6 separate regions of the Homo sapiens genome follow, and regions 1, 2, 3, 4 and 5 are each reported to be linked to region 6. Evidence: microRNA targets listed by miRTarBase, many of them from high-throughput screens and not tested one by one. Region 6 holds a microRNA gene; each other region holds the end of a gene's coding sequence. Distances are from middle to middle.
What was found. The annotated mature microRNA hsa-miR-526b-3p reads GAAAGUGCUUCCUUUUAGAGGC and lies in region 6 at 1,661-1,682, shown strand. An mRNA with a match to its seed (bases 2 to 7 or 8) in the 3' UTR can be bound and repressed. Matches are read on the target gene's strand: a 7mer-m8 pairs with bases 2 to 8, a 7mer-A1 pairs with bases 2 to 7 and ends in A, and an 8mer does both.

Region 1: the mRNA of FOXJ2 is a reported target of hsa-miR-526b-3p. Seed matches in the 3' UTR shown: 8mer at 671-678.
Region 2: the mRNA of ZNF665 is a reported target of hsa-miR-526b-3p. Seed matches in the 3' UTR shown: 7mer-m8 at 2,445-2,451 and 7mer-m8 at 1,340-1,346.
Region 3: the mRNA of CPT1A is a reported target of hsa-miR-526b-3p. Seed matches in the 3' UTR shown: 7mer-m8 at 2,480-2,486.
Region 4: the mRNA of UBOX5 is a reported target of hsa-miR-526b-3p. Seed matches in the 3' UTR shown: 7mer-m8 at 1,974-1,980.
Region 5: miRTarBase lists NME6 as a target of hsa-miR-526b-3p. Seed matches in the 3' UTR shown: 7mer-m8 at 934-940 and 7mer-m8 at 2,456-2,462.

What each region holds. Positions count from the first base shown.
Region 1 is chr12:8,052,159-8,055,281 of GRCh38, reverse strand. FOXJ2 (forkhead box J2) reads right to left here. Exons shown (of 11, transcript NM_018416.3): 11 at 1-2,520. The coding sequence ends at 2,432. Among named protein-coding and RNA genes, the nearest start is that of C3AR1, 13 kb to the left of the region's middle.
Region 2 is chr19:53,161,954-53,165,076 of GRCh38, forward strand. ZNF665 (zinc finger protein 665) reads right to left here. Exons shown (of 4, transcript NM_024733.5): 4 at 471-3,123. The coding sequence ends at 2,500. Among named protein-coding and RNA genes, the nearest start is that of ZNF347, 4.5 kb to the left of the region's middle.
Region 3 is chr11:68,755,032-68,758,154 of GRCh38, reverse strand. It overlaps CPT1A (carnitine palmitoyltransferase 1A), which reads left to right. Exons shown (of 19, transcript NM_001876.4): 19 at 425-3,123. The coding sequence ends at 511. Among named protein-coding and RNA genes, the nearest start is that of TESMIN, 5.1 kb to the right of the region's middle.
Region 4 is chr20:3,107,348-3,110,347 of GRCh38, reverse strand. It overlaps UBOX5 (U-box domain containing 5), which reads left to right. Exons shown (of 5, transcript NM_014948.4): 5 at 34-2,775. The coding sequence ends at 242. UBOX5-AS1 (UBOX5 antisense RNA 1) reads right to left here. Exons shown (of 7, transcript NR_038395.1): 1 at 2,777-3,000; 2 at 598-873; 3 at 1-70. Among named protein-coding and RNA genes, the nearest start is that of UBOX5-AS1, 1.9 kb to the right of the region's middle.
Region 5 is chr3:48,292,170-48,295,271 of GRCh38, reverse strand. NME6 (NME/NM23 nucleoside diphosphate kinase 6) reads left to right here. Exons shown (of 6, transcript NM_001308426.2): 5 at 37-197; 6 at 469-2,955. The coding sequence ends at 635. Among named protein-coding and RNA genes, the nearest start is that of NME6, 7.6 kb to the left of the region's middle.
Region 6 is chr19:53,692,783-53,695,905 of GRCh38, forward strand. It overlaps MIR526B (microRNA 526b), which reads left to right and starts at 1,611; the gene lies at 1,611-1,693. MIR519B (microRNA 519b) reads left to right here and starts at 2,431; the gene lies at 2,431-2,511. LOC107985342 (a long non-coding RNA gene) reads left to right here. Exons shown (of 3, transcript XR_007067332.1): 3 at 1,247-1,840.

The sequences.
Region 1 (3,123 bases), not on the chromosome of region 6:
CTCTCTTATTTCCTCTTATAGGCAGTGAGCTTCTGCAGTTTTGCACACATCACCCAATACAACAATAATGACTACACTTTGTGTCCAGCAATGCTAGACCAACAAGAAAAAGTAGTATTCTTTTCATTTCATGAAGGGGAGGGGAAACTGAGGCCCAAAGGGAGTCAGGTTTGCCCTGTGCCACGTAGCAAGACTGGGCTTGGTGGAAGGGAGCTGGAATCTCAGGAGGCCTAATGGCCAATCTCCAGTCCCAGACCCAAACTTCAGCTACCCTGGCTGCACGCCAGAATTCTTCATGAGACTAGTTTGCAGAAGACACAGATGAACAAGGGGCATTTGCATGTATGATCCTACCCTTGCAAATCCTGTATGGATCTGAACAGGAAAAGGGTTTAGAAAAGAGAAGTGATCATTTACAAATGGGGAATATTGAGGAGAACTGATGGGAAGTTTTGTATAGGACACACCCTGACTGGAAGGAATAAGGAAGGAAAAGATGCCTAAAATAGGGACACTGGGCAAAGGCATTTTGCCACCCTCTAAGAGAAATTCTCCTTTCCCCAATGGGAAATATTATGTCATACTTCAACCCCACTAAGTGCCCTCCAACATCATGGGAGATTCAAGCCACTCGCACCCCCATTTCTTTCTTAGAAAGGCTTCAAAGAAATAAAGTGCTCTTTAGTTAACTGCCCTATCTTGCCCCTTTACTTCAGCCTCACTGGACTTCTTCAATGAACTCTCATATATAACCCCCTTCCAAAAAAAGGAAAGGGGTGGATGAAAGAAAAAAGCAGGAGAGCGGAACGCCAAACCTCTTGGAAATTATGGGTAAATAAAATAATATGCATGAAAAGCAGAAATCACAAAGAAAGTGGCCTTGTCTATTCCATACATTTTGTCCCACAGCTTTTCAGCAAGTGAAATAAGGACAGAAGTAAAATTGTTCTTCCCTCTCGTAACTAAAATTCAACAATCAACATTAAATATACACTGAGTACTTTGCAACAGTAAGTCATGGCCACCCCTTGTAAAAGAGATGAGTTAGCTCCATACCTTTTTCTGGGGGTCCCCCTTGGCCCTCACTGAACTCTTGCCTCTAGATTATTTACTCTCCTCCACCAATCTCCTTCACCCCTCAAAGCCTACTTGCAAAAGCTTCAGCCAGATGATCTGGATTCCAAGAGAAGCATCTGCCTATATATTTAAAGAACTAAAATATTCCCTATCCATTTCTTTGCCAGCTCTTTTTTCCTCTCCCCATCCTCCTACCACCAACACTAAAGGTTTGGCTCTGCTATGAGAGGTGGGAATGAGATTCCCATCATGTCTCAGGGCACGACGAAACTCAGAGTGATAATGGGTTACTTTTTCTTTCTTGAGAATCCCAGAAAATGAGGGAAGAAAAAAGATGGGTGGAAGATTTGGGCAAACAATTAAAGGAGGACAAACTAATATTTGCTGAATGGGAAAAAGGGATGGGAAGATCATTCGTAAATGCAAATAAGAGCCACAATTAATTTTCAGAGAAAATTATGTTTAAAAAGCCAAAATAGTTAAGTTGGAATCATCTCCAAGAAGCTAAAACCATGCTGAATAGTTGTCCTCATGCCCTACCATAGAAGCAGAGTTTGGGCTAAAACCAATCCTATCTTCTTAGAGAACAGGCTCAAAACAAGCCAATGGACACTGATGTAACATGGCAGTGTATACTCAGTTTCACACTGACTTATATTCCATCCCTTCCAATGGTCTCCAATTCCACTAGGATTTTATTGTCACCCTCCTGCACCACCATCATCACTTTCACCCTTGATAGGAAATACAGACTGGCAGAAGTAAGGATTGAAGGTATAAAGGGACAAGGAAGACCTCAGAGGACAGAATTAGCACCATTTTAAAACCTCCAAATTCTTGGCTGCCAAGTAATGTTTCAGACCCTTTCTACTTGGTAATGTGGCCTCTCCAGTCCTGGCCTGAAACTGATGGGAACAAAAAACAATTTAGGGCCAAAAGGTGGGATTAGCATTGAGTTTCTCCAAGAGAAAGGTAAACTGGAGTCTAAAACCTTTCTCTGTAGCTATCATGGCTTCATCTTCCAGCCTGATGATTTTAAATTAGCAAAAGGTGGACATGATCCATGATGTAGGGACAGGAGACTATGGACAGTATATAACCAATAATAATAATAATAATATAAGAATAATAATAAAAGAACTAGGAAAAAACAGGAAGGAAGAGAGAAGAATGAGGCAGGAAAGAGAGGGTTATCTTCGGCAGCATCTTGCAGTGGCTTCTCTGACAGAGAAAGAACAAAAAGAGGATATATGTCTATATACAGACGGGGGGAAGGGACGGGCTGGGGTTGCTCTTTCCCCACTGCCAGATTTCACCACGCGGCCCTGGGCTGATGTCCACACTCTGTGATGCACTAAGTGATCAAGTCCCAGTCGAAGTCATCAGGGATCTCCTCATTGGCACCAGGAGGTGGCACTGATGGCCGAGGGACCATATGGTGTGCTGTTAGAAAGAAAGAAAGAGAGTAAAAGGAGAGTGGATGGGAAGCTGTTCCCTCAATTTACAAGGACAGTGCTCAGCCCCAGATAACACCACGAAGAAGGCCTTGTGAGGCTATCGCCCTTATCAGCTGGAGTTAATTTTGGTTGCAGGTCACCATTTCAGTGAGGTCTCAGGAAATAAACTAGAGTAAATTACATTCCACAGCAATTAAATATTATGCTGCCATTAACAATTATACTTCTGACGCCAGGCACAGTTGCTCACACTTGTTATCCCAGCACTTTGGGAGGCCAAGGCAGGCGGATCACGAGGTCAGGAATTCGAGACCAGCCTGGCCAACATGGAGAAACCCCATCTCTACTAAAAACTCAAAAAATTAGCTGGGTGTGGTCACATGTGCCTGTAGTCCCAGCTACTCGGGAGGCTGAAGCAGGAGAATGGCATGAACCCGGGAGGTCTTGCAGTGAGCTAAGACCGTGCCATTGCACTCCAGCCTGGGCGATAGAGCGAGACTCCGTCTCAAAAAAAAAAAAAAATTGTACTTCTGAAAACATATGATAATGATAAAATAACATACAGAAGATAATATCATATGGCTGGGCG
Region 2 (3,123 bases), 530 kb from region 6:
TCTGGGCTGGGCATGGTGGCTCACACCTGTAATCCCAGAGCTTTGGGGGGGCCAAGGCAGGTGGATCACTTGAGGTCAGGAGTTCGAGACCAGCCTGGCCAACATAGTGAAACCCTGTCTCTACTAAAAATACAAAAACTAGCCGGGTGTGGTAACGGGCACCTATAATCCCAGCTACTTGGGAGGCTGAGGCAGGAGAATTGCTTGAACCCGGGAGACAGAGGTTGCAGTGAGCCGAGATCACGCCACTGCACTCCAGCCTGGGTGACAGAATGAAACTCCATCTCAAACAAACAAACAAAAAAACCAAAATACACTTAGTTTCTGAAAATTATATGTTGTTTGATCCAACAATGGAAATCATTGTTCTAGATCCTTCGATAGCTTAATGGTGCAGTGTTGTTATCTGTTATGAAGTATGCTACTGAGGTAGGATAAAACTATGTTGGCAAGAAATGATTCATTCATACTTATAAAATACATCAAATTTTATTAGTTAAAACATTAAATCTATGATGCATTCTTAAATAGTAGCAAAATGTGATTCCAGCAGTTAATGTAAATCCTAGTAACAAACATGGGATTCTGGTTACTTTGATTAAACTTCTTATGCTCGGCCGGCCGGGCACGGTGGCTCCAGCCCGTAATCCCAGCACTTTGGCAGGCCAAGGTGGGCGGATTATGAGGTCAGGAGTTCGAGACCAGCCTGGCAAACATAGTGAAACTCCATCTCTACTAAAAATACAAACATTAGCCAGGCGTGGTGGTGCATGTCTGTAATCCCAGCTACTTGGGAGGCTGAGGCAGGAGAATCGCTAAAACCCAGGAGGCGGAGGTTGCGGTGAGCTGAGATTGCATCACTGCACTCCAGCCTGGGCAACAGAACAAGACTCCATCTCAAAAAAAAAAAAAAAAATCAATCTTTGCTATGCAACAGCTATTGGCATTTGATGGAGAAGGTAGCCTCCACTTTTCTGCATTATTTGTACCACACATCAGTCCCTAATAAGCTATTACTCTCCTCTAATAAAAATCCGAGTGTCTTCCTGGCTCTATTTCATGGTCTACTGGTAGAGAATTTCTTTCTTTCTTTTTTTGAGTCAGAGTTTCGCTCTTATTGCCCAGACTGGAGTGCAGTGGCATGATCTCGGCTCACCACAACCTCTGCCTCCCGGGTTCAAGCGAGTCTCCTGCCTCAGCCTCCTGAGTAGCTGGGATTACAGGCATGCGCCACCATGCCTGGCTAATTTTGTATTTTTAGTAGAGATGGGGTTTCTCCATGTTGGTCAGGCTGGTCTCGAACTCCCGACCTCAGGTGATCCACCCACCTTGGCCTCCCAAAGTGCTGGCATTACAGGCGTGAGCCACTGTGCCCGGCCAGTAGAGAATTTCTTCCCATACCCACAGTGCTCTTCTGTCAGAAGAAGGGCACCTGCAGTGCAATAAGGATGATGAGTGACATCATAGTTCATCATCCTCTGCCCTTTCCAAGTGCTCTCTAATTCAGACTATATTTAATTTTAAAAGGCAGAGTCTTTTTTCTTCAGGAGCTTGGAGAGAAATAATCCTCACCTAATGAAGTGAGTGAGCCCTTCCATCCTTTGATTCTTTCCCGAACAACACCATGTTAGGCGTATAATCATGTATAAAATCAGCACATTGCAAAGTTCTGGTTGGAAGTTATAAATAGTAGCCTTTTCAATAAATCTTAAATACTTCAACAAAACATTTTATAAGCTGAAAGTAATTGGCCATTTCCAAACATCCTACAACCTTTGATATGTATCATGTAATGAGTTTTAACACATTTGGACTTCTGATTATGCTGAAGTATATAATATCAGAGGGTTATGAGGAAACTAGAGACTGAGTTCTACTCTTCCTATGAATCCTCACCTACAGTTGTGGTCCAGGAGTAATAGTCTCAGCATGCATGTTACGTTTGTGTGACTTCATCAAAGATGTATCTTTTGATGCGTATTGAGCTCTGAGACCTGGATAAAGCTTCTGTCATACATAGTATATTCACAGGATTTGAACTCTGATGTCTGTTAATGCTTAAACTCATCAGGAGTTTGCCACAGTCACTGTATTTGTAAGAATTGTCTCAAGAATGAATTCTCTGATGTTGTGAAAGAATTTGTGGCTGAAAAACTGGCCGCACTCCTTTGTAAGGTTACTTTTTTTTTTTTTTTTTTTTTGGAGATGGAGTTTCACTCCTGTTGCCCAGGCTGGAGTGCAATGGCATGATCTCGCTCACTGCAACCTCCGCCTCCCAGGTTCAAGTGATTCTCCTGCCTCAGCCTCCCGAGTAGCTGGGATTACAGGCGTGCACCACCACACCCAGCTAATTTTTGTATTTTTAGTAGAGACAGCGTTTCACCGTGTTGGCCAGCCTGGTCTCGAACTCGAGACCTCAGGTGATCCCCCCGCCTCGGCCTCCCAAAGTGCTGGGATTACAGGCGTGAGCCACCACGCCCGGCGTCCTTTGTAAGGTTTCTATCCACTATGAATTCTTCGATGTTTTGCAAGGTTTGAATTTTGAGTAAAGACCTTGCCACATTGGTTACATTTGTAAGGTTTGTCTCCAGTATGGACTGCCATATGGGTAGTTAGGGTTGAACGAACACTGAAGGCTTTCCCACACTCATTACACCTATAAGGTTTTTCTCCAGTGTGAATTCTTCTATGATTTGCAAGATGTGAATTTTGAGTGAAGACCTTGCCACATTCATTACATTTGTAAGGTTTTTCTCCAGTATGGATGACCTGATGGGTAGCTAGGTTTGAATGTACACTAAATGCTTTGCCGCACTCATTACACTTATAAGGTTTCTCACCAGTGTGAATTCTCTGATGAATTGCAAGGTACGAATTGTGTCTGAAGACCTTGCCGCAATCATTACATTTGTATGGTTTTTGTCCAGTATGTATTGTCTGATGTATAGTTAGGCTTGAATGAACACTAAAGGCTTTGCCACACTCATTACACTTGTAAGGTTTTTCTCCAGTATGAACTCTCCAATGCCTTGCAAGTTGTGATGTTTGACTGAAGGCTTTACCACATTCATCACACTTGTAAGGTTTCTCTCCAGAATGAATTCCCCGATGACTTGCAAGGTG
Region 3 (3,123 bases), not on the chromosome of region 6:
CTGGGACTATAGGGGAGTGCCACCACACCTGGCTGATTTTTGTATTTTTTGTAGAAATGTGGTTTCACCATGTTTCCCAGGCTGGTCTTGAACTCCTGGGCTCAAGCGATTCCAAAGTGCTGGGATTACAGGCATGAGCCACCATGCTCAGGATGGTCATTGTGTTTTCCGTGGGATAAACGCATTGGCATTAGGGGAAGGCTTAGATCGACAACACACCCGCACAAACACATCAGCTGTCATCTCTTTACCCTCAGCATTTCTCTGGAATGTCTAAGTTAAGCTTTAAGACGTTGGTCAGATCTTAGAGAACTGGCAGAAAGGAATTTCAATGAAACATTGGGTCAGATTGCAAATGAAAAAGCTTGAAATGTGGGGATGGCCACGTTTTAATAGGTTTTTGGTTTTTGTTTTTACATGAAAGGATTCTCATCGCTTTGGAAGGCACCTGAAAGAAGCAATGACTGACATCATCACTTTGTTTGGTCTCAGTTCTAATTCCAAAAAGTAATTCCACTGGAGCTGCTGGGAAGGAAAACGAGCTCTTCTGATGCAAACCAAATGAAAAATAGGCATTAATCCTGACCTTAGCTCGGGATGAAACACTGCTCTTAAAAAAACTCAGTTTTCCTTCCAGAAAATGTGGGTGTTTTTTTTTCCTAGAACAGTATCTCTCCCCTGTGAAGCATAACCCCACTACTTCCAGACTTGCCCTCCCTTGGGGGACATCTGATAAAGTCTCCCCTGATGTCTCCGCATCGGCTTGGATTTATTAAGGGATGCAAATCTTGTTGAGTTAATGAAGGAATTAGTAGGGTTGTGGCTTCACACACAGTGGAATGGAAATGGTGTGCTTTCTCAGTGGCAACCGAAGGCCTAGTGCTTAAGGGCATTTAGCATCATCCAAGCAGGGTAAACTTTTGTTTTGTTAAAAGAAAAATGTGTTATTCAAGTTGGTGTCCCCAGTTGTAGCTAACACATCTGGAATGCACTAACCAAAATGCTGTGCTTTGGAGACCTGCTTTTGTCACCGTGGGTAACCGTTCCCGTCTGGTCCAGTAGCCTGTGTTTGCCTCTCCACATTTGAAGCAAGCAGGATGCAAGGTCTTCAGTTTTACTGACCTTGTATGTCTTCAAGTCTTCACAACCCAGTGCCTTAAAAATGAAAGGCCCTAAATGTAAGGGAGATGGAGAGAAAGATTTATTTTGTAGAGTCTTTGGGTGGAATTGTGGGTATACTGTTCCCTTCACAATTGACTGAGTATGGATAACCGTACATAAGCATTTGCTACACCCCACCAGCCCCCTCCCCCTCAGAAACACCAGTTCCTTCCCAAGGGCAGCTGTGCCAGACTCCCCTCCCGGGACTGCCTTCTTGTCATCATAAGCAACAAAAGAAATAACAGGCACATGTCATAAAAGGGGAGCAAGGGCCGTGATGGTCAGATAATTCACTCAAGAATAAAACATGACACGTGCCTCAGGAGGATCTCTTTCCCAAAGTGACAGCAAGGAGGGCAGGGCATCGGCCACCAAGCGGGGACTAGCAAGTGAGGAAGGGGAGGGCAGCCCACCGTGGTGAGGAGAGAGTGGCTCCACGACCCCAAGGGATGGCCTTCTCCTCCCACCCGGTGAGGGGAAAGACTCACCAGAGGGTGATGGAGACAGTATGCCGGCTCACCTTGGTGACCAGCCAAGATGTCTCAAGTGACAGTGCTAGGTGTTCACCCAGCCTGTCCTTCAGATAGGAGTGCCTTCACGAAAGCGTCTCATGGACCACAAAGCAATTATGCACTGAGTCATCTTCAGTATTTAATGCAAAAATGAAGCATCATGGAATGAAATTCCCACTGTCTGTCATGACAAGCTTAGCTGTCCATTGTTTTAAATTGTGTATTTATTTTTTTGACCACTTGGTTCTAGTTGGGCCTGACTCCTTCAGAGTGCTGCACCCCGATAGTACAACAGCGATGGCTGAACTGTTGGAGTCGATGGAAGGTGCTTGCCGGAGAACACGTGCCTTTTTTTTTTTTTTTTTTTTTGAGATGGAGTTTCACTCTTGTTGCCCAGGCTGGAGTGCAGTGGTGCAATCTCGGCTCACTGCAGCATCTGCCTTGCAGGTTCAAGCGATTCTCCTGTCTCAGCCTCCCAAGTAGCTGGGATTACACGCCCAACACCATGCCCTGCTAATTTTTGTATTTTTAGTAGAGACGGGGTTTCATCATATTGGTCAGGCTGGTCTCGAACTCCTGACCTCAGGTGATCCACCTGCCTCAGCCTCCCAAAGTGCTGGGATTACAGGCATGAGCCACCATGCGCGGCCCACATGCATGTTTTATGTATGTATACTTCATGATGTAAAAATCCCACCTTTATGGGCCAAAGATTTTTTTTCTCCTGAAAGCAAGAAAAAATGAAAACAAAAGACAAAAAAAAAAAAAAAAGCGTCCAGGCGCGGTGGCTCATGCGTGTAATCCCAGCACTTTGGGAGGCCAAGGCGGGCGGATCACGAGGTCAGGAGATGGAGACCATCCTGGCTAACACGGTGAAACCCCGTCTCTACTAAAAATTCAAAAAATGAGCCGGGCGTGGTGGCGGGCGCCTGTAGTCCCAGCTACTCAGGAGGCTGAGGCAGGAGAATGGCGTGAACCCGGGAGGCGGAGCTTGCAGTGAGCCGAGATCGCTCCACTGCACTCCAGCCTGGGCGACAGAGCGAGACTCCGTCTAAAAAAAAAAGCAAAAACAAACCAACAACAAAAGCCCCTGACTGTCCGTCAAGCAGGCAGCGGGGATGTAGCTCTCTCTGCCCTGGGCAAGAATAGCACTTCCCGTTAAAAGCCAGCAGCCGGCGTCAGTCCCTATCAGAGCCAGCTAGATCATGCACTGTTGACCACTGAGCAATCTGTGTTACACTAGAGTTCACAGGGCATTTTGAGTGTAGACGTGAGTGCTTAAACATATTTGGGTTTCTCTCTCAGGTTTTAAATGTTTCAAATGTAATTGTTGCTCATCAGTGCAGTTATCAATGCAATTTTATATTCCTTGAGGGGAGAAAGAGGGGTCTTATTGTACATGTCCAAGGGGGGTGATAAGAGTATTATCTGTTTAATTTAATTGGAACAA
Region 4 (3,000 bases), not on the chromosome of region 6:
AACCCTGGCCTGTTTTCCTTCCTGATTTACCAGAGCAGCCTGGGAGCATCCTGGGCCCCGAATGTGCCTCCTGCAAAAGAGTATTTTCTCCCTACTTCAAAAAGGAGCCGGTGTACCAGCTGCCCTGCGGCCACCTCCTGTGCCGACCCTGCCTGGGTGAGAAGCAACGCTCCCTGCCCATGACGTGCACAGCCTGCCAGCGGCCGGTTGCTAGCCAAGACGTGCTGCGGGTCCACTTCTGAGTGACTGACCTCCACTGGAGGAGACCCATTGCTGGGAGGAGCTGAGGGGGAACAGGAGCAGGGCCACAGCACCCCTGAGGTCTGGCCAGGCCCCAGGCACAGAGCTGCCTGCTCCCTCCCGGGGCTCTTCTTCATCACCTCACGGTATAGCACATTGCTTCTGCGCTGGTGGCAATAGGGCAACAAAGCCATAGGCCAGAGGGCGGGGGGATGTCCCTGCCTCCCTGCCACCCCCCCTGCCTGAGCCCAGGACCCACTGGAGCCAGCCCCACCCTAGGCAGGAAGACCCCTGCTGAGGGCCCCCCCGTGCAGTCCGCATACCCCCCTGTCCAGCAGGGCACTGTGGGTGGCTCACCCTAGATTGTGGCCCAGATCTCAGGAGTCTCTGCCTTCAGGGTCATCCAAAAGTGGACCTTGGGAGCAGTGGGGGTGTCTGTGGAGTGCATGACTCAGCCCCCCGACTCGCAGCCTTAATAAAGCGATGGTTGACGTCTGCTGTGGGTTTCCTCCTGGTGGAGTGCCTGTCTGTGTCACACACTCCTGTCGCCCACCTGCACCCACACAAGTGGAGCTCACAGGGTAGCTGTGTGCAGTCACTGCAGCTTGCCAGGCTGTCATTCCTGTCGATGACCTGAAAGGACACAAACTGGAATTTTCAGGTCTGTCCCCTGCATGGGGACTCAGAACCCAGGTTTGCAGGTGGGCATACGTGGTGGGAGGGTGGAGGGCTCCCTCTGGCCAGTGCCAGCTGTGCTCAGCTGGCTTCAGAAACTGCTCCCTGAGGGGGAGCGCAGCGTTTCCTCATGCAGTTGGTTTCAGGAAAAATACTTGTTTATAGGCTGCATCCTTTTTTCAGCCCAACATTTAGCTTTATGGAGTGCCAAAGGGAAAATATATCCATATCCCTACAACTTGGTACTCTATCAGATTCCAGCCACTAGAAGAACCTCAGTGAGAAAACACACCCGCCTTTCCCTGTTCCCTTCTAAGCACGTTTGGGAAGGAACAGCCTAAAGATGCTTTGTAAAGCTGTATTTTACCCTTGAGCTTAGCCGCGGGTCCCTGTGAACCGGCACATTCCTTTCCTTTAGGCCGTCCAGAGCTCTAGTCCACACCCAATACTTTAGAGATCTGGGTTTGGGGTTAGTTGCTTTTTTTTTTTTTTTTTTAATTGAGACAGGGTTGGTCTCTGTTGCCCAAGCTTGAGGGCAGTGGTGCAATCATAACTCATTGCAGCCTCGAACTCCTGGGCTTAAGGGATCCTTCTACCTCAGCCTCCCAGGTAGCAGGAACTATAGGCATGTGCCACCATGCCCAGCTAATTTTTTTATTTTTTGTAGAGACAAGGTCTTGCTATGTTGTCCAGACTGGTCTCAAACTCCTGGGCTCAAGCGATCCTCCCAAAGTGCTTGGATTGCAGGCATGAGCCACTTCGCCTAGCCAAGCCTGCATTTTTTTGAGTTCCTACATCATTTGTCCACAAAGATGGCTTCAGAGAGGTGGTCACATGCTTTGCTCTGCTTCCTCTTGGCACTGACCTTGATGCAGCCTTCACATGAGATTTGAGGGTCCGCATGGATGGCCTGTGCCGCCCTCGCTGGCGAGGCTCCTGTGTGCCCCTGGCTTTCTGGGTCTGTGCCTCTCCAGAATCTTGTCTTACCCTCCGGTGTGCTTGTGTTCTTAGAAAAGCCCCAGCATGGCCGGGCATGGTGGCTCATGCCTATTATCCCAGCACTTTGGGAGGCCAAGGTGGGTGGATCACTTGAGGTCAAGAGTTCGAGACCAGCCTGGCCAACATGGCAAAACCCCATCTCTACTAAAAATACAAAAATTAGCTGGGCATGGTGGTGTGTGCCTGTAATGCCAGCTACTCAGGAGGCTGAGGCATGAGAATCGCTTGAACCGGGGAGGCAGAGGTTGCAGTGAGCCGAGATCTCACCACTGTACTCCAGCCTGGGCGACGGAGTGAGACTCCCTCTCAAAAAAAGAAAAAAGCCCCAGCATGTAGCAAAAGCATTTCTTGGTGAGTGTGGGGGCTGGTGATTCCCACCTTCACCCTGTCATGGTCTCAGGGAACAGCCTGCTTCCCACCAGCAGCTTGACACCCACAGTGTGCTCTGGCTGCTGGGAGCCCATCTCTCGGAGAAACCCTGTCCACCCAACCCCGAGAGCCCTAGCGTGCAGTCAGCGTCAGCACGGCGCTCCCAGATGAGGGCCGGACTGCCTCCCCTTAAGCAGCTGTGTTGGAGGTACTGCCCAGACCGCTGCAGGTCCCTGGGGATCTGCATTTCTAACAGGCTCCTGCCCCCAAGACTGCTCTGGTGGAAAATCCAGCCTGGGAGCCCCTGGAGTGGCAGGCCCTGTCCTGGGTACAGGTGGAGCCACCCCCAGGAGTTGCGTGTGTTTTTCTTAATTGAAAGACTTCCCCCAAAAGGAAGTGGTCTTTTCACTACCCTTGCCAGAAACATGCTAGGCACCACTGGGCTCTGTTTCTGTCCCCTAGAAAATGGGAATAAAATTTCTTTTGCTGTCACCTGGCTCTGAAGGCAGTTTATTTCTCACTAGAGCCTGGACCCAGGCACAGAACAGCTGTAAACACGCAGAGTTTAAGTCCACGGACGGAGAAGACTCAGGACCTCAGAGCCTTGCTGTGGCCCTGCTGCCCTCCAGAGATCTTCCACCCCCTCCATGACCACAGGGTCTGTGGGCACATGTCTCTTCCCCTTCCTGTGACATTGACTCGGCCCTCTGAACGCAG
Region 5 (3,102 bases), not on the chromosome of region 6:
GGCCAGGTTCTTTACATGTGCTTGTTTTGTTCACAGCGGGCCAATCCGAGCCTACATCCTTGCCCACAAGGATGCCATCCAGCTCTGGAGGACGCTCATGGGACCCACCAGAGTGTTCCGAGCACGCCATGTGGCCCCAGATTCTATCCGTGGGAGTTTCGGCCTCACTGACACCCGCAACACCACCCATGGTTCGGGTGAGTCCCCTGTCCATAGCCATAGGATATTTTGGGGTTAGCGGGCAGGCTGTGTGGTAGAGTTGACAGCCAGGTCCCTCCAGTGAGCTTTCTTCCATTTGTGTTTCTGGTCTTTGTAGCCATGTTGGCAGATGTGGCCTGTGGACTTTCTTTACATGCCCCAGGACTGAAGGGGCAGGCAGAGTAGAGGCTCAGGATTCTGAACCTGATTATGACTGCCTCTTGCTTCTACCATGTGAGAACCCCTTCTCTGTCTTATCTCCCCTTACAGACTCTGTGGTTTCAGCCAGCAGAGAGATTGCAGCCTTCTTCCCTGACTTCAGTGAACAGCGCTGGTATGAGGAGGAAGAGCCCCAGTTGCGCTGTGGCCCTGTGTGCTATAGCCCAGAGGGAGGTGTCCACTATGTAGCTGGAACAGGAGGCCTAGGACCAGCCTGATGCAGGTCTATGAAGACCAGTGGTAGTGCCCAGACTTCTCCTAGACATCTAGTCTAAAACATTCTCCTAGGACCAGGGAAGCCTGGCTTACAGTGCCATTTCTGCTGGGCACCACCACCTGCCTGAGGGCCTAGCTCACCACAGCACATCCTCCAGGATCTAGCCTTCTATCTACCTCTTCTCTGGAATGTTTATGGTGGTTCAGAAGAATGATGACTCCTCTTTGCTGAGAACTGTTCATCCTTCTTCAAGAAGAAGCTTGCCAGGCCGGGCACGGTGGCTCACGCCTATAATCCCAGCACTTTGGGAGGCCGAGGCAGGCGGATCACAAGGTCAGGAATTCGAGACCAGCCTGACCAACATGGTGAAACCCCATCTCTACTAAAAATACAACAATTAGCCAGGCATGGTGGTGCATGCCTGTAATCCCAGCTACTCAGAGGCTGAGGCAGGAGAATTGCTTGAACCTGGGAGGCAGAGGGTGCAGTGAGCCGAGATCGTGCCATTGCACTCCAGCCTGGGCGACATTCTGTCTCAAAAAAAAAAAAAAAGAAGCTTGTCTAATTGACTTGCCTAAAAAATGCAGTGACTCCAAACAACATTTGACCTGTCTTCCTCAATAAAAGTCAGTGTTCTCCTGAATCCTTTATGCTGCCACATTTAGGGGAAACTTTTCAGGCTTCATCATTCTGACTTCTCAGCAGCATTCAGTTATTGCTTCATTCTCCAGAAACACTCTCTTCTCTTGGATTTTCTGATCCCACACCCTTGGTTTTCTCCTTCTGTGTGTTTTTCTTCATCTCCTTTATCAGCTTATGCAAACATTTATTTTCATAAATTCTCTATTCAAGACATACTGAAAAATGCAAAGATGGTTAAGACATGATTGGGTCCTCAAGTTGCTAATTATGAATTTGGGTGGTCAGCCAGCTATAACGTGGCAGAGATGGAGAAGTGCCCTAACAGAGGTATAAAGTCCTGTGGGAGAACAGAGGAAAGAAGGTTTCCTTTGGCTGGGTGAGGAGGTGAAGGAGATAGGGTGGAAAGTCTTTTATAAAAGATATAGCTGGCTTTGGAACTAAGCCTGAAGGTCAAATAGGGTATCCATAGCAGGGGTCTGGGGCACTAGACAGTCTGTTCATTTTCAGGAATATATGGGTCAGTTTTGTATGTGTGACCTAAGAAACCTGTGACACTTCTTACAGGTCTTGACTTTTCTTTCTCAGTACATGTGTATTTCTCTTTTTGGTGGCCTTGAAACCTTTGAGTTGAAAATTGCCTTCACCATCTGCCACTTTCACTAATGGTAGACCAGGAAATTTGGACCCACTGAACATAGAGAACAACTAGAAAAGCTGTGCAAAATATAAACAGCATCTATCTGAAAGCATCAGCTGGCAATATAGAACCAAAATTCAGGACACGAAGGAAACTCAAGAGAAGTGAGCCTGGGACTTAGAGCTACTTTTCCCATAAGGGCACCTGCTGATTCTGGAAGAGGCAGCTAAGAAGCTGAGTAGAACTTTCAACAACTTCTTGTGTTAGGGAGCCAGCTTCATGAATGCTGGCAGAAAACACAGGATTACTTGGGCAGAGACTACTGCTCAGGGCACAGCAGGCAGTGTGTTAGCCTTGGTCTCCCTTGCCCTCCAAGTCCCACAGGGCAATACTGGCAGGCCCAGGAAAGTGTTACACACTGCAGGTTTGCATGACGGCTAAGGAACCACAATCTTAGGGAGATACTATCTCTGTCTTCTAAGGCCATTTGCTGTACAAAAATCCTTGAAATACCTGGGCACAGTGGCACACCTATAATCCTAGCACTTTGGGAGGCTGAGGCAGGCGGATCACCTGAGGTTGGGAGTTCCAGACCAGCCTGACCAACATGGAGAAATCCCGTCTCTACTAAAAATACAAAAATTAGCCAAGCGTGGTGGCGCGAGCCTGTAATCCAGCTACTCGGGAGGCTGAGGCAGGAGAATCGCTTGAACCCAGGAGGCGGAGGTTGTGGTGAGCCAAGATCACGCCGTTGCACTCCAGCCTGGGCAACAAGAGTGAAACTCCATCTCAAGAAAAAAAAAATCCTTGAAATAGTCTGGAACAAAATCTGTCAACATCTCAGCCCACAAAGTATCAACAAAATTGATATTTTGTTGCATTTAAAAAATTTAAATGGTGGTCAAAGCGTACAAAATCTGACAATTAAGACACCCACAAGAGACACAGAATTATCTCCCAATAAAATTGTCTCATAAAAACCTGGCTCCCACAAATATGGAAAGGGAGAAAACTAGAATAAACCCTGTGGTGTCGAATTGGAGATATCAGTGTGAACTCGTGTATTTCAGTCTATAGAGATAGATGTAAATATGTTTTTGTATGTATAGTCCTTTGCACTGATGTGAGAGCAATGACACTCCAATAGTAATGACCACACCCAGCACCCAGGTCCACCAAAAGACAAAGT
Region 6 (3,123 bases):
CCTGCCTCAGCCTCACAAAGTGCTGTGAATACAGGTGTGAGCCAACACGCCCGGCTATCAACAACTTTTCCTACGTAGAAATTATTCGGGCACTGGTTTATAGAACCTCACGTGGGTTCACGTAGAATTGAAGGGGACCTCAGCGTCCCTTGCAGATGGGATGTGCAATGTATTTGAGATGTACTCGAACATTGCTGTTGAGGTGTGGGCATCTTTTGCTTTTTCCTAATTTTAAATATGGGACTAGTCTGGGTATGGTGACTTCCACCAGTAATTCTAGCACTTTGGGAGGCTGAGACAGGAGGATCACCTGAGGTCAGTTGTTCGAGACCAGTCTGGCCAGCATGGTGAAACCCCGTCTCTACTAAAAATACAAAAATTAGCCGGGTGTGGTGGCACTCACCTGTAATCCCAGCTACTCGGGAGGCTGAGGCAGGAGAATCACATGAATCTGGGAGGCGGAGGTTACAGCGAGCAGAGATCACACCGTTACACTCCTGCCTGGGCAACAGTGTGAGACTCTGTCTCTAAATAAATAAATAAATAAAAATAAAAATAATTAGGTGAATATGGGACCAGCATGGACTTGGGTGTCGCCTTTGTGCAGTGGCCAGGATATTCTATGTCATTTAAATTTTTTTATGTGTACTTCCAAAGCAAGCAGTTATGTATAGGAATTATTCTTCCTATAAGCATGCAATATTTGGAACTTTCTTTGAGACAGGGTCTCAAAAATACATGATGTATATTTCATTTTATATTCTTATATATTATGTACACACAAAATACTCTTCTAAACACAGAGAATACTCCGATATCACCTAGGGTGTGTGTGCGTGTGCGTGTGTGTGCGTGTGTGTGTGGTTCTTTTCTGAGACAATATCTGCCTCTGTCACCCAAGATGGAGTGTGGTGGTGCAATCTCGGCTTACTGCAACCTCCACCTCCCACCTAAGCCTGCTGAATTAGTCTCTACAGGCATGCACCACCACACCTGGCTAACTTCTGTAATTTTTGTACACATGGGGTCTCGCCATGTTGCCGGGGCTGGTCTCGAGCTCCTGAGGCAGGTGATCCTCCTGCCTGGGCCTCCTAAAGTTCGAGGAGTTAGAGGTCTGAGCCACTGGGCCCCACTTGTACTTGTGTATTTCTGCTCAAATTTTATTGAGTAGTTTTTACATCCTAGCCTGTGATCTACTCTGGAGAGTGTTTGTGCATATGACAGTGTATATTCTTCAACATCGTAGACTCCATTTTGGATGCTCCCTTCGTGACTGTGGGTCCTGTACTGGAACTCGAGTGAACACTTGGCTTAAAATCCATTGCTGTTCTCCAGAAATCCTGCCCAATTTTCTCGGTTAAAGGTACGTGTAGTAGGCATTGCTTTTTCTCTTTGGGGACAAAACTCAGGAGGATTGCCCCTTGATGAACAAGGCTAACCTGCTGATTCTTTGAAGCAAGGAACTGGAGATGGTCCTTATAGAGTTTTATATTCTGGATTCCATAAAACATGCATACAGGGTCAATAAATGCATCTTTATTTTTGTGTCTATTTTAACTTGGTCAAAGAAAATTCCAGGAAAAAATCCACGGCATCAGAGCAAGAAGATGTCAGGCTGTGACCCTCTTGAGGGAAGCACTTTCTGTTGTCTGAAAGAAGAGAAAGTGCTTCCTTTTAGAGGCTTACTGTCTGAGAAAAGCAACGTTGTAGTTGATGCTGATCTTTGTAATATCTTTGCAGAGCACGCTTATAATCAGACTTGGATGATGTTGGGGTTTTGTTTTTCTTTTGTTTTTTTATCTAAGACTGGGTCTCTGTTGCCCAGGCTGAAGTGCAGTGGCACAATCTTGGCTCACCACAACCTCCGCCTCCCGGGTTCAAGTGATTCTTCTGCCTCAGCCTCCCAAGTAGCTGGGATTATAGGACTGCGCCACCATGCCTGGCTAATTTTGTATTTTTAGTAGAGACAGGGTTTCTTTAGGAGCTTTTAAGGCCTCCCTTGTAGTCTATCCTGGAGGATGTTTGTGTGTGCAACAATGTATATTCTTCAACATGGTAGATTCCATTTTGACTGCTCTAATCAGGACTGTGTGTCCCTGTGCTGGAAATCAAGTGAACACTTGGCTGAAAATCCACTGCTGTTCTCTAGAAATCCAGCCCAATTCTCTTGGTTAAATATAAGGTATGCATAGTAGGCATTGCTTTTTCTTTCTGGACACAAAACTCAGGAGGATTTCCCCTTGATGAACAAGGCTAACCTGCTGAGCCTTTGTAGGAAGGAACGGGAGATGGTCTTTTTAGGGGTCTATGTTCTGGATTCCAGAAAACATGCAAACAGAGCCAATAAATAGGTCTTTATTTTTGTCTCTATTTTAACCTGGTCAAGGAAAATTTCTACAAAAAACCCAGGGTGCTGGAGCAAGAAGATCCCATGCTGTGACCCTCTAGAGGGAAGCGCTTTCTGTTGTCTGAAAGAAAAGAAAGTGCATCCTTTTAGAGGTTTACTGTTTGAGGAAAGCAACAGTGAAGTTGATGCTGATCTTGGTAATACATTTGCAGAGCATGCTTATCATCAGACTTGGATGATGGTGGGATTCTGTTTTTATTTTGTTTTTTTTTCTAAGACAGAGTCTCTCTTGCCCAGGCTGGAGTAGGGTAGCACTTCCAACGTAGATCTTTTAGGCTCAAACGGTCCTCTTTTTTTTTTTTTTTTTTTTGAGGCGGAGTCTTGCTCTGTGACCCAGACGAGAGTGCAATGGCGCGATCTTGTGTGCAAGCTCACCTCCTGAGTTCAAGCAATTCTTCTGCCCCAGCCTCCCAAGTAGCTGGGACTACAGGTGCCTGCCACCACTTCCAGCTAATTTTTGTATTTTTAGTAGAGACAGGGTTTCACCACGTTGGCCAGGCTGGTCTCAAACTACTGACCTCAAGATCCACCCACCTCAGCCTCCCAAAGTGCTGGGATTACAGGCGTGGGCCATTGTGCCCAGCGGTCCTCTTTTTTGAGATGGAGTCTTGCTCTGTGACCCAGGCTGGAGTGCAGTGGCAGGAACTTCGCTCCCTGTACCCTCCACCTCCCAGATTCAAGCCATTCTCTCCTGAGTCAGCCTCCCTAGTAGCTGA